3 linked regions of the Homo sapiens genome follow. The protein of the gene in region 2 purifies or fractionates together with the protein of the main gene of each other region. This does not show direct contact. Each region holds a gene or a part of one and is shown on either strand. Other genes may lie near its edges.

Region 1 (3,652 bases), on a different chromosome or scaffold from region 2:
CCACAGCCACACAACCACTAAGTGGAATGGCCAGCACCTGTGCCCAGGTAGCCAGGCTCCAGAGCCCAGGCACATCGTGATTATGCTGTGGTCCTTTATTCTCAGGTACCACCTACCTGTTAATATACATCACACACAAGAACAAAGACGATGTGTGAATGAAAAGCCTACACCCTTTAAAAATAATTCTAACATAACTGCAGGTTCAGACTGAGTTATGTTGGCAAAGCTGCCTGTGAAAACCTGCTCTGGGAGATCTGCCCACACACTACACTAATTAATCTACTTTCATAAAGACCATGGGACTGATTTTTATCTACGAGGCATGAAATGCATGTTCAGGAGCTTTGTTTCCACCAGAAAACCATCCAAACCAAATTGGATGATTTTTTAAGTTTTTCAGCTAATATCTCAATTTTTAAAAATTTCCCACCCTTACTGAGCCAAGATGGAAAATAAAATATATCATAGTCAATGTGAGAAAGACAACAAAGGAAAAAATAGATTTTTTAAAAAATCTTTAAAAAAAGGTTAACACTCCATTAACTCTCCAGGATTTTAGGGCAAAAAGAAAAAGCGAGTTACAGACACATTTATAGAGCACATTCCACCCCAGTAACTCAATGGGAAGATGGAAGTAGGATTGGCAGCATTTAAAAAATGGTGCCCCCAAACCAGCAGGCACTCACCTGGAGACGCCCATGCAGAGTTCCCAAAATTTCAGTAGGCATTTTCAGTTTAGGTTTTTGGGAGTTTTTGGTTTTAAGGGTTCTTTTGTTTTTGTTTTTGAGATAGAATTTCACTGTGTTGTCCAGGCTGGTCTCAAACTCCTGGGCTCAAGCAATCCTCCCACCTCAGCCTCCCAAGCTCTGGGATTACGGTTGTGAGCCACTGCACTCAGCCTCTAGCATTTTTTCTTAAATCAGGTTTACATGAAACTAATGATGATGAATTCATTAATGAGGGAGAAAGGTTATATTCTTTATTACTTGAAGTGACTCTTGTTCAGGAAAACTACTGAAAGTTTACAAATGAAAATGTCAAATTGTAGCAAGAGAAGGGAAAATAAAACAGAAATTATGGTTTCAAGGACATCACGAAAATTAAATTATTTTATATGCCTTAACAGATGAGAGGACAGTTCTCAAAATGTTCTTAATTTCTTTTTTCTTGATTTGGCAAGGAACTCCTTTCACAGTAAGGAAAGAGAAAAAAAATATGGGAAGAGACAAAGGGACAGACTCACTCTCCACCCAAAACAGTAATCTGACTTGATTTTAAATGCCAATAGCTGTGCCATCTTCTTTCCTCTGGTAATTATTACCTGCTGAACTTTTACTACGTTTTGCCAGTTATGTTTATTTAACTAACTCTTTATGCAAAGGAAGATAAGATTAGGAACATAGTTCTAATCACTATGGAGCTGATGGCAATGATGCTGATAGTGGTAGAGGCAGTGACAGTGGTAACAGTGACAAGCAATCTTTTGAATCTCACTACTAGAAAGGCATTGATACACCTTCCCAGAACTCTGCAAAGTGTAGCAGAAATACTTTTTCTAAAGGTCTATTATTCACCAAAAAAAAAAAAAAAGCCCATAATCGCTGGGCACGGTGGCTCACGCCTATAATCCTAGCACTTTGGGAGGCCGAGGCAGGCAGGTCACGAGGTCAGGAGTTCAAGACCAACCTGGCTAACACAGTGAAACCTCGTCTCTACTAAAAATACAAAAAATTAGCCAGGCATGGTGGCACATGCCTGTAGTCCCAGTTACTCGGAAGGCTGAGGCAGGAGAATCGCTTGAACCAGGGAGGCAGAGGTTGCAGTGAGCCGAGATCGCACCACTGCACTCCAGCCTGGGTGACAGAGTGAGACTGTGTCTCAAAAAAAAAAAAAAAAAAAAAAAAAAAAACTACAATCAATCCCCAATAAATGTAGAATTAATGTATTTTTAAATGAATAACAGTAATATAACCTACACTCCTGGCCATAAAAGTGGAAATGTAAATAAAATCTCCCCCATATCTGTCAAACAAACAAATGAACTCTTCCCTGAAGAAATGCCATACTTTTTCACCTTTATTAAATACATTCTCCATTTGAACAATTTAGTTATTACTATTTCCAACACAAATTGAGCCAGAAATCTATTGTGGTTTGGGTAAAACACCTCCCTATCCTGAGGATTTCTAAGAAATCCAAAACTGCTGGAAATAAGCTACTAAGACACAGTCTACTGCCTTACCCAACTTTACTAGAAGATAAATCTTTATTAAAACCAACCTTCTGTTGGGGGGCTGGGGGTGGCTCATAGGAAAATGAAACAATCAGGCTCATACCCATAATCCCAGCACTTCGGGAGGCTGAGGCAGGAAGATCGCTTGAGCCCAGGAGTTCAAGACCAGTCTGGGCAACATAGCAAGACCCCATCTCTACAAAAAAAAAAAAAATTTTAAACCTAGCATGCTGGCACTTGCCTGTAGTCCCAGCTGATTCAGGAGGCTGAGACAGCAGGATCACTTGAGCCCAAGAATTCCAAGTTGCAGTGAGCTATGATTTCACCACTGCACTCTGGCCTGGGCAACAGAGTGAGACTCTGTCCCTTAAAAATAAAAGGTATTTATTTGTTGGTGTTTGGTGTTTATGTGATGGAGAAAAAACAAAACATGAATCCACATCCAGATACTTGAAGATCCAGACCCCTGATTTAGAAGTCCTGGTTTATCTACATATTGTTACAACTGGAGAAGCCAGATAAAGCAAAGGATGTGAAGACAAGCAGGGAGAAGTGTCTTGATCCTCAAGTCCTCACATTACAGGAAGCATCTGCTCTGAGAACAATAACTCCCAGCCTCTGATAATACAGTAACATTCTCCTTTGAAACAGGAGAGTGCTCCTAGCAATGGCATTTTCAATGAAACTCTATGTCAATAGAGTCAAAAACAGCCCATGAAAGAAGCAGCGTTTTCCCTCCTTCCTTCCCACAGATCCATTCTGCTCCCAGGACAGCTTTGCCCGCCCCAGTCTTGAGTACTTGAACTTTCCTATGGGCATACAAGGAACCCTTCTCCCAAAAGAAGATCTAAGAATAAAGCTGAAAACCAAGCCACAACAACATGCACCCCAATGTAGGTACTATTTGTTGCAAAAAAAAAGAGAGACTGATAACAGAGATCACAGAAAAGACCTAACAGGTGAAATTCTAGAATTAGAGTATGTAAATGTCCAAGCAAAGCTCAAATATTTATCAAAAACATCCATATATATTCTGGATCTCTGCATTGCAGGAAAACTGCCACACTAGTGGAGCCAATATTATAAATTCTTTTTTTTTTAACTTTTATTTTAGTTTCAGGGATACACGTGCAGGTTTGTTATATAGGTAAAATGCCTGTCATAGGGCTTTAGTGTACATGTTATTTCATCATCCAGGTGATAAGTGTGGTACCCAATAGGTGGTTTTTTAATACCCTCCCTCTTCCCACTCATAAATTCTTAATGAATAAATAATGAATGTGGAACTACCTTAAGTATTATGTCCTGTGATTTAATATTTCAATATTTTCTTTAGCGACTATCATAAGATCAGGGGTCATTCATTTTCAGAAATGATAGTCCAATAACGAAAGTTGAAGTCTGCCCCCATGTAAA
Region 2 (4,182 bases):
CACTCCACATGGACATTGCCGACTGCCCAGGGATTCCCCACCATAGACACTCATTCCTGGCTCGAAGTTTGGTCTCTCTGACCCCATTTGTGATGCCAATTGTAACAAGAAAAATCCAGAATCATATTTTTAAAAAAACCTTTCCCCCAAACTAGGAGGGAGCCAAGAGACCAAAGAATGACTCAGACAAGTCCAGCTTGGCCAGTGGATAAGTTTATTAGGACTTACATATGAGACACTCCTAGATAGCAGAGGACACCTTTAGAGACCTGCCCTGCTTTCCATCTCTAAGCTGCTTTTAAGCTAATTTTCTGGCTCTTTGCCTACTGTGTGTGCATGATGGGACTGTTTTCCTTGATAGGTTCTCAGGTATTCTCTGGGATGTTTGGGTACTCAAGGACACCTGCTCCTCAGCTGGACACCATGGCGTTGACTCACCACTTGGCCATCAAGGATACCTGCTTCTTGGCTGGGCACCGTGTCCTTGACTCACTACTTAGCCATTAAGGTTCAAGCAGTGGTCATACACCCTTAAGTATCCTGGTGGGGGACCTGCAACCCTACACCAGTGACAAGGCCTATTTCTCATTGTCCACGACATGTGACTTTGGGAAAACTACTTAGATTCTCTCTGCTTCAGTTCTGCCACCCACAGACCAGAAATAGATACCAGACCCAGCCCTATCTCTTCTTTCTAGGGTTGTTGTGACATTTGGAAAGAGATTATGGGTTTAAGAAACTTTAAAGGGTTAGAGTGATACAAAGTGTAGTGAATTTTACATCTCAGACTAACCTGATATAAAATCTCTACTGACAAGTCCGTAAAGATCTTAGCTCAGTGCCTAGGATTCAGTAAATGCTTAGAGGATATCAGCTATTAGTGTTACCGCTCATTTTCTTGTTAGACTATGCTCCCAATTATCCAAGGATGACTTTGGTAGTCTAATATTGGTCTAAGTCTTTAAGTATTAGAGGTACTGCCTTCTGAATTGTCACCAGGCCTAATGTCATCTAGACTGTAAACAATTCCCCAACTATCAAGATAACTGTTCTATGAATGCTTTTCATTTCCATATTTTCTTGGCTCAATGCTGTTGCTCAGGACAAAAAACACCAAGTTGGTGATGATGACTGAGTGATGAAACAGTGATCAGAGGGACATATGAAGCTAGTGTAACAAAGATGGGAGGGGCTGGGGAAAGTATAAGTAACTATTAGGAGGTTCAGAGCAAACCTCAGGACACTTACTCCCTGAGCTAAGGTAAAGAATATTGTCCCTCATAGCCCTGGTCTCAGAAACTCTGTGGGGAAGATAAGTCCTGAGCCTAGAGCTGCCATTTCCACAGACAACTGAACTACCTTCAAACAGATGTGTTTTTAGGGGCAGCAGATAGAAGGAGCTGAATCCAGGAGTTTCCTTCCCTGAAATGCCCCAACAGAGGCACAGTCCTCCACCTTCCCTGGAACAGAGGGCTTTCATCTGTCTCTCTGAAGCCATCTCCCTCCCCTGTTTATGCCCAGAGCTGCTTTCCAATCCCATGGAGTGCCTCCGTATCTAACCATAGCCACTGAGTCTACCAGGTGTTCCTGAGAAGACAACTAAGCCAACCGCTCCACACTCTGCTGATTTTCTTCTACATCTCACAGGGGGAAGAGCTGGATCACCATGAAATATGTCTTCTATTTGGGTGTCCTCGCTGGTATGTACTCAAGACCTTGTACTCTGTCCTGTAAGGCACAGTTTAATGGATGGGGTGAGACAGAGGCAGGATTGCGAAGGGTGCAGAAAAAGAGTCAAAAATAGTGTCATCAGCAGAATTAGGAGTCCTGCCTCTCAGACTCCATCCAAAGGCTCTCCGGATAGGCTGAGCCCACTTTTCTAGTGTTAAGCTATAGGGTGGGTTAAGGCACACATGTGCCTTGGAGAAGGCTTAACAGTGAGTGTCCTCCCACCGACACTAATGCAGAAAACAGAGAAGTAGAAACAAAAGATCAAGTACTAGGACCCTACCTTCTGTAGTCCTTGCCCCACATGGGGTTCTTCTGACAGCAGAATTTGCAGATGAGGCATTTCCCACCATTCTCTGACTGCCTAGGTTGTATCACACATTAGCTGTGTGAGATTAGCCAAGTTAATTAACTCTTCTGTGCTTCAATTTCTTCAAAATGGGGGTATGACTACCCATATTATAGAGCTATTGTGAAGATTAAATAAATCTATGTAAAGCACTTAGAACAATGCCTGCTATAGAGAGCTCAATGTCTCTTGCCCTTGTTTACAGTCTACCCTTTTCTCTTTGGGGTTTCTAACTGTGTGATCACACAGAAGGGTGTGGTGAGGTACAGACCCAGTCTTGGGGAAGGTTAACAGGAGTAGCAAGAGAAGCCAAGACAAGAAGAGGGCTTTATTTCTGATACTAGAATCAGCCTTCCTCCCCTTTATTCTCTAGGGTATGTTTTAAATAATTCATTTATAAAAACAATATATGTTCATATTACAAAATTTAGACATTTTTAAAGTAGAAAAATAAGCATCATTCATAATCCCACCTCTTAGTCAACACATGCTAACACTTTGAGTTTACTCTCAGAATCTATATATTTTTTGCATTTAAATGTTTTTATTTATTTGTTTTTAGACAAATAGATTATATCCACAATTTTCTTGTTCTTTTTAACTTAAATAAGCATTAATATTCTTTTGCTGTTTAATATTCTAATTAGTTTAATTTTTATTATATATGATGTTCCACTTTTTGATGTGCTTCAATGTCCAACATTACTATGTCAGATATTTATGTTTCCAGTGTTCAGCTGTTATAGCTAACATGAGCATACTTGTTTGTAATCCTTGTCTATATCTGATTTTTTTCTTTAGAATGGATTCTTGGGGTTGGAATGATTAGGTCACAGGTTATAAACAATTTATGATTCTTGATGCCTGTTTCTAAATTGCTTTTCAAGAAGATGGAATCAATTTACTAGCAGTGATGAGTGTCTCTCATTATACTCTCTTAGATTGAATATTATCAATATTAAACAAAATTATTATAAATATAAGATAAAATGGCATATCGTTTTAATTTACATTTTTATTAGAAAAACATGTCAAATACGTTAACACTTCTTGGCCAACTGATAACTGTTTAAGAATCATCCAGATTCCTTTTCAAGTAAGAGACTGTTACCTTATTTTTATAATATTTATGTATTAAGAATGTTCATTATTTTCTCAGGGACATTTTTCTTTGCTGACTCATCTGTTCAGAAAGAAGACCCTGCTCCCTATTTGGTGTACCTCAAGTCTCACTTCAACCCCTGTGTGGGCGTCCTCATCAAACCCAGCTGGGTGCTGGCCCCAGCTCACTGCTATTTACCGTTGAGTATTTGGGCATCCCCATCCCCAAAACAGCTACTGTTCATTCTAGATCAGTGGTTCTCATATAAGGGTAACTTCTCTACAGGGTACACTTGGCAATGTCTGAAGATATTTTTGGTTGTCACAACCAGGGGGCAGTGCTATTGGCATCTAATGGGGAGAGGCTAGAGCAAAGATGCTGTTTAACATCCTACAATTCACAGCACAGTCCCCACAATAAAGATTTGTCCAGCCCAGAACAGCAATAGTGCCACTGTTGAGGAACCCTGTGTTACATGTTATGCCTCCTCAGACTCTCATAAGTTTTTTTCTTTTTTTTTTTTTACTGGCAGTATGAATGCATTTTATCACTTAAAGATCTAGCAGGTAACTGATGATGCACTCAAATTGGGTCAATTGAGGTGAGTTTTAAGAAGGAACCAATTGCAAAGGTATGGAGACATTAAAGGGACAATATTAAGAATAGTTCCATACCACCAGGGTTTGTATTAAGAAAATGCAGTTACCACCTCTAGGCCTAAAAAGGCAAGAGGAGAAGATAATTTCAAAGGAGGCAAGGAGAGATAGAGAAAAAGCGAGACCTGTGTGAGGAGACAGCCTGATAAGGATTGTAACCCCTAGTCAAGGAGCACAGCCACTCTGTGACAAAACTGCAGGGAGGGACCTGGGAGGATAAGTACTCCAATCTCACTCTTCTTCCTCCAGTTACTTTCTGGTGCTTCCTATTGGCCAATAGAAGGAAGCCAGAGGACAAGAGAGCCCACTGATTAAATCCATATATGTCCCCTTCCAAAGGTGCAGAG
Region 3 (3,652 bases), on a different chromosome or scaffold from region 2:
TGATTTTCAGCATGAACGGAGGAAGCTGTGACCCTAGAAATTGAGCAGCAGCCTTAGGCTTGGTATATGTCATTTAATCACTTCTGCTAACTCCATTTATATGTTGTTATCTTTGACTGGGGCTGCAATAATCTGGTAACTCTAGCAAGACATACTTTAAATATTGCCTTCACATGATCAACCACCGGTTCCAATTTAACCCTGAGAATGGTCTTTACTGACAATGACAGTGTGGAACTACAATCTGGCTTTTTCAGAAAACTTCACCATGTACATGATTTAATCAATCCAAAATAGATTCCTGAAGTGTTCCTGCCCTTAAGAAAGATAAACAGATGTCCTATTTTTCAAACAGCCTCTATATAAAACCTAGTTATCTACATGAACCTATAAAACATGTCTGTTGGCATTACGAAGATGACGGGTTCTAGTTGTTCTGTGCTCCTGGGAACGACAAGACAGGACAGGTAGGCAGCGGCTGTGTGTCTATTTCTGGCAGGGTGAGGCATTCCTGTGCTATTCTCTTCTTTCCCCTCTCTATATATTCCTTATCCTCCAACCACTTTCTCCTCATCCACATTCCAGGACAAACTTTGCCCAAGGAGAAGCTCAATGGACTGTTGACCTCTTGTGAATGGAGATCATCTCATCTAATGTATTTTTCTCCACAAACAGAAGTAATTTAAATGACATCTTGGCAGAGTAGCCAATAATCAACAATGGCCACTTCTTCCACTCCCAAGTTGGTAAGTAAGACTTTATTTTATACGTTGAATTGGGCTCCCTGTATAATTAGATTCGGTCAACCCTTCACTAAATGACAGACCAGGAAAGTGAATGTTCCATGTACAGCAAGAAAACGGAAATCTTCAGGGAGAAAAGTCCATCTTCCCTCCTCCTCTTAAAATGTTCTCTTCACCTGTTCTCTCTTCTTACACCTCAGAAGAGATGCCACCCACCCTAGCTGCAAATAAAGATACTCTGATACCACAAAATCCTGCCTCTTCTACAGCTCCTCCCACTCCTGACACCTTGTGCAGAATCCATACACACACACAGGTTCTTCTCCTACTTAAAAAATAAGCTTGGCCAGACACGGTGGCTCATGCCTGTAATCCCAGTACTTTGGGAGGCTGAGGTGGGCAGATCATGAGGTCAAGAGATTGAGACCATCCTGGCCAACATGGTGAAACCCCGTCTCTACTAAAAATACAAAAATTAGCCGGGCGTGGTGGCATGCACCTGTAGTCCCAGCTACTCAGGAGGCTGAAGCAGGAGAATCGCTTGAACCCGGGAGGCGGAGCTTGCAGTGAGCCGAGATTGCGCCACTGCACTCCAGCCTGGGCGACAGAGCCAGACTCCGTCTCAAAAAAATAAAATAAAATAAAATAAAATAAACTTCATTCAAACCTTTGCTTCTTTCAAACAAACACTCTTATTCTTCTCTTTTTTTATACTGGCAAAGATCGCAAGAAAAGGAGTTTCACAGCACCGCCCTGGCTTCCTTAGAACTCCCTCTCCGCCAAACGCTGCTCCACAGAGATCCTGCAGGTCCACCCTGGCAGAACAGCCGTTCCCGCATCACAAGCTAATGTCAAACCAATGACCTTTTCTCAGTGCTCATCCTCCTTGATTTCATGACACCTTTGACACCACTCACTCCCCTCCCCAACACTCCTGATCCTTCATTCGGTCACAGAGTCCCCCAAAACAAAGAGGCAATCCACAGGTATGAAAAATGAATGACAACATTCTCCTGATTCTCTTCCATACTCTTTTATACTCTACACTGACTCACCTACAACTCTGGCATTACAAACTTGTCTTCCAACTCTTCCTCCACATGCATTTATTACCACCCTTAAAGATCTCATCTACTCTGCCTCAAATCATGAAGGATCAGTGCACCAAATCTGCAATTTCAGCTCTAACCTCTCTCAAACACCTCGTAACATTCCTCCTAAAATACCATCAAACCTAAGTTATACGATTGGCCTTCACTATATAAGAGTTCTGCATCCATGGATCCAACCAACCTCAGGTTGAGAACGTCTTTAAAATAAACAATAAAACAGTAAAAATATAAATAGTACCCCATTTTATATCAGGGACTTGAGCATTCTCAGATTTGGGTATAAAATCCCAAACCTCCCTTAGAGACCAAGGGACAACTATATAGACTTTTCACCCTTTCGCCATTGCAAAATAACAGCTCTTCCAGTTATTTTCCAATCTCACCACTTCCCAAATCAACCAAGTTTGCAAACTAACAAATCAAACAAAAAGGAAGGGGTTGGGAGAACATCAAATGTGGAACCTAGCTCCAGCTTTGTCACTAATCAACTGTGTGAATTCAAGGAACTTGCTTAATCCTTTCGACTCTATGTATTCGAGAAATTGAAGGATGGACTAAAATCTTTACAGCCTCCTGGCTCTCAAACCTTCATTTCTCAAAAGTTATCCAAACTTGACATTTCTTTCTCAATTTCTCAAAATGGTTCCCTTTGCATTTCTGCTGCTACCACCTAGTTAGAATGGGTATTTTGTTCATGCAGAGTATTCCTACAGTCTTTTGGTATTCCTGCTTTCTGCCCCCAATCCCAGTCAACCTATTCAAACTTCTTTGTGATATTATTCTTTAGCTTGAAAATATTCAGTATTTCCCCTTAGCCTGCTAAGTATATGATTCTTAACCTTGCATTAAAGACCTTTGATAATCTAACCTCTAACTAATTTCCTAATTTCCCAACACTACTTCTTATTTCAAAACAAAAAGGCATACTTCCCAGACTTGCAACAAGTTCAGTAACCAAGCTGTCTTGAGCCAATAACACCACCTAGTGGTGAAGGCTCTAAAGTAATGTAACATCTTGACCTCTTCCCTTCCGAAAGATAATGCAAACATTACTATTTTCTTTGTTTCCTGCCCTCCACTCCTCACATACAGCTTATTTGTTTTCACCTTTCTCTTCAACGTTTCTTTCTTTTTCTCTCTCCTTAACCTCTGCCTCATAAAAACAATCCTCCCTTTTTTAATAAGATTATTTAAGTCATAGTCAAGATTCTCTATGTTCTACCTAGACAAAAAAAAGAAGCCAATCCTTTTCCTAAGATAACATGGTACGGTGAGGTCTTCAGAATTTCTCTCCACTCATCACACCACAAGCCACACTATGCTTTCTATAACTTGCTTTGCACACATCATTTCCTCTGCTTGAATTGTTCCCCTCTGATTCACACTTCCCTCAGAACTCACATTATCCTAAATCCACCTGCCCCAGATCCCCCAGCTCACTGAGGTGCTGCTATGGACCACCTTGACCTGAATGGATCTCTTATCACACTGGTCTATAAGAGACTGTGTACTTGTCCTCTCCCTTATCAGACTACGAGCTGCTTGAGGGCAGGAAACACGATTTGTTCAGCACTAGATGTTGTGTCTGGCCCAATGTTTGACACAGAGGAGGTCCACTATTGTTGGATTGGTAAATGGACAGATGAATAAAGCGTTAAGAGTGAGAAATGTGAGGCAGGACTGTGTTGGGGAGGGGATATAGAGAGGGATAACATAGGAAAATAAAACATCCATCCTTCTCAAATTAACAGAAAATCCAGGCACAACCACGAGGCTGGTAACAACACTGCAGGTGGC

Evidence for each region.
Region 1: the proteins of PRSS37 (region 2) and CD109 purify together in Homo sapiens (affinity purification with mass spectrometry; one large-scale study listed by BioGRID and IntAct). This does not show direct contact.
Region 3: the proteins of PRSS37 (region 2) and FAT1 purify together in Homo sapiens (affinity purification with mass spectrometry; one large-scale study listed by BioGRID and IntAct). This does not show direct contact.

The regions. Positions count from the first base shown.
Region 1 is NC_000006.12:73,699,051-73,702,702, reverse strand, and holds part of CD109 (CD109 antigen isoform 1 preproprotein), read right to left. Parts: intron 1-3,652. UniProt on the Homo sapiens protein: Modulates negatively TGFB1 signaling in keratinocytes.
Region 2 is NC_000007.14:141,838,534-141,842,715, reverse strand, and holds the start of PRSS37 (probable inactive serine protease 37 isoform 1 precursor), read left to right. Parts: upstream 1-1,230; 5' UTR 1,231-1,666; coding exon 1,667-1,700; intron 1,701-2,366; exon of another isoform or gene 2,367-2,451; intron 2,452-3,236; coding exon 3,237-3,378; intron 3,379-3,711; exon of another isoform or gene 3,712-3,780; intron 3,781-4,182. UniProt on the Homo sapiens protein: Plays a role in male fertility. May have a role in sperm migration or binding to zona-intact eggs. Involved in the activation of the proacrosin/acrosin system.
Region 3 is NC_000004.12:186,717,300-186,720,951, forward strand, and holds part of FAT1 (protocadherin Fat 1 isoform 1 precursor), read right to left. Parts: intron 1-3,652.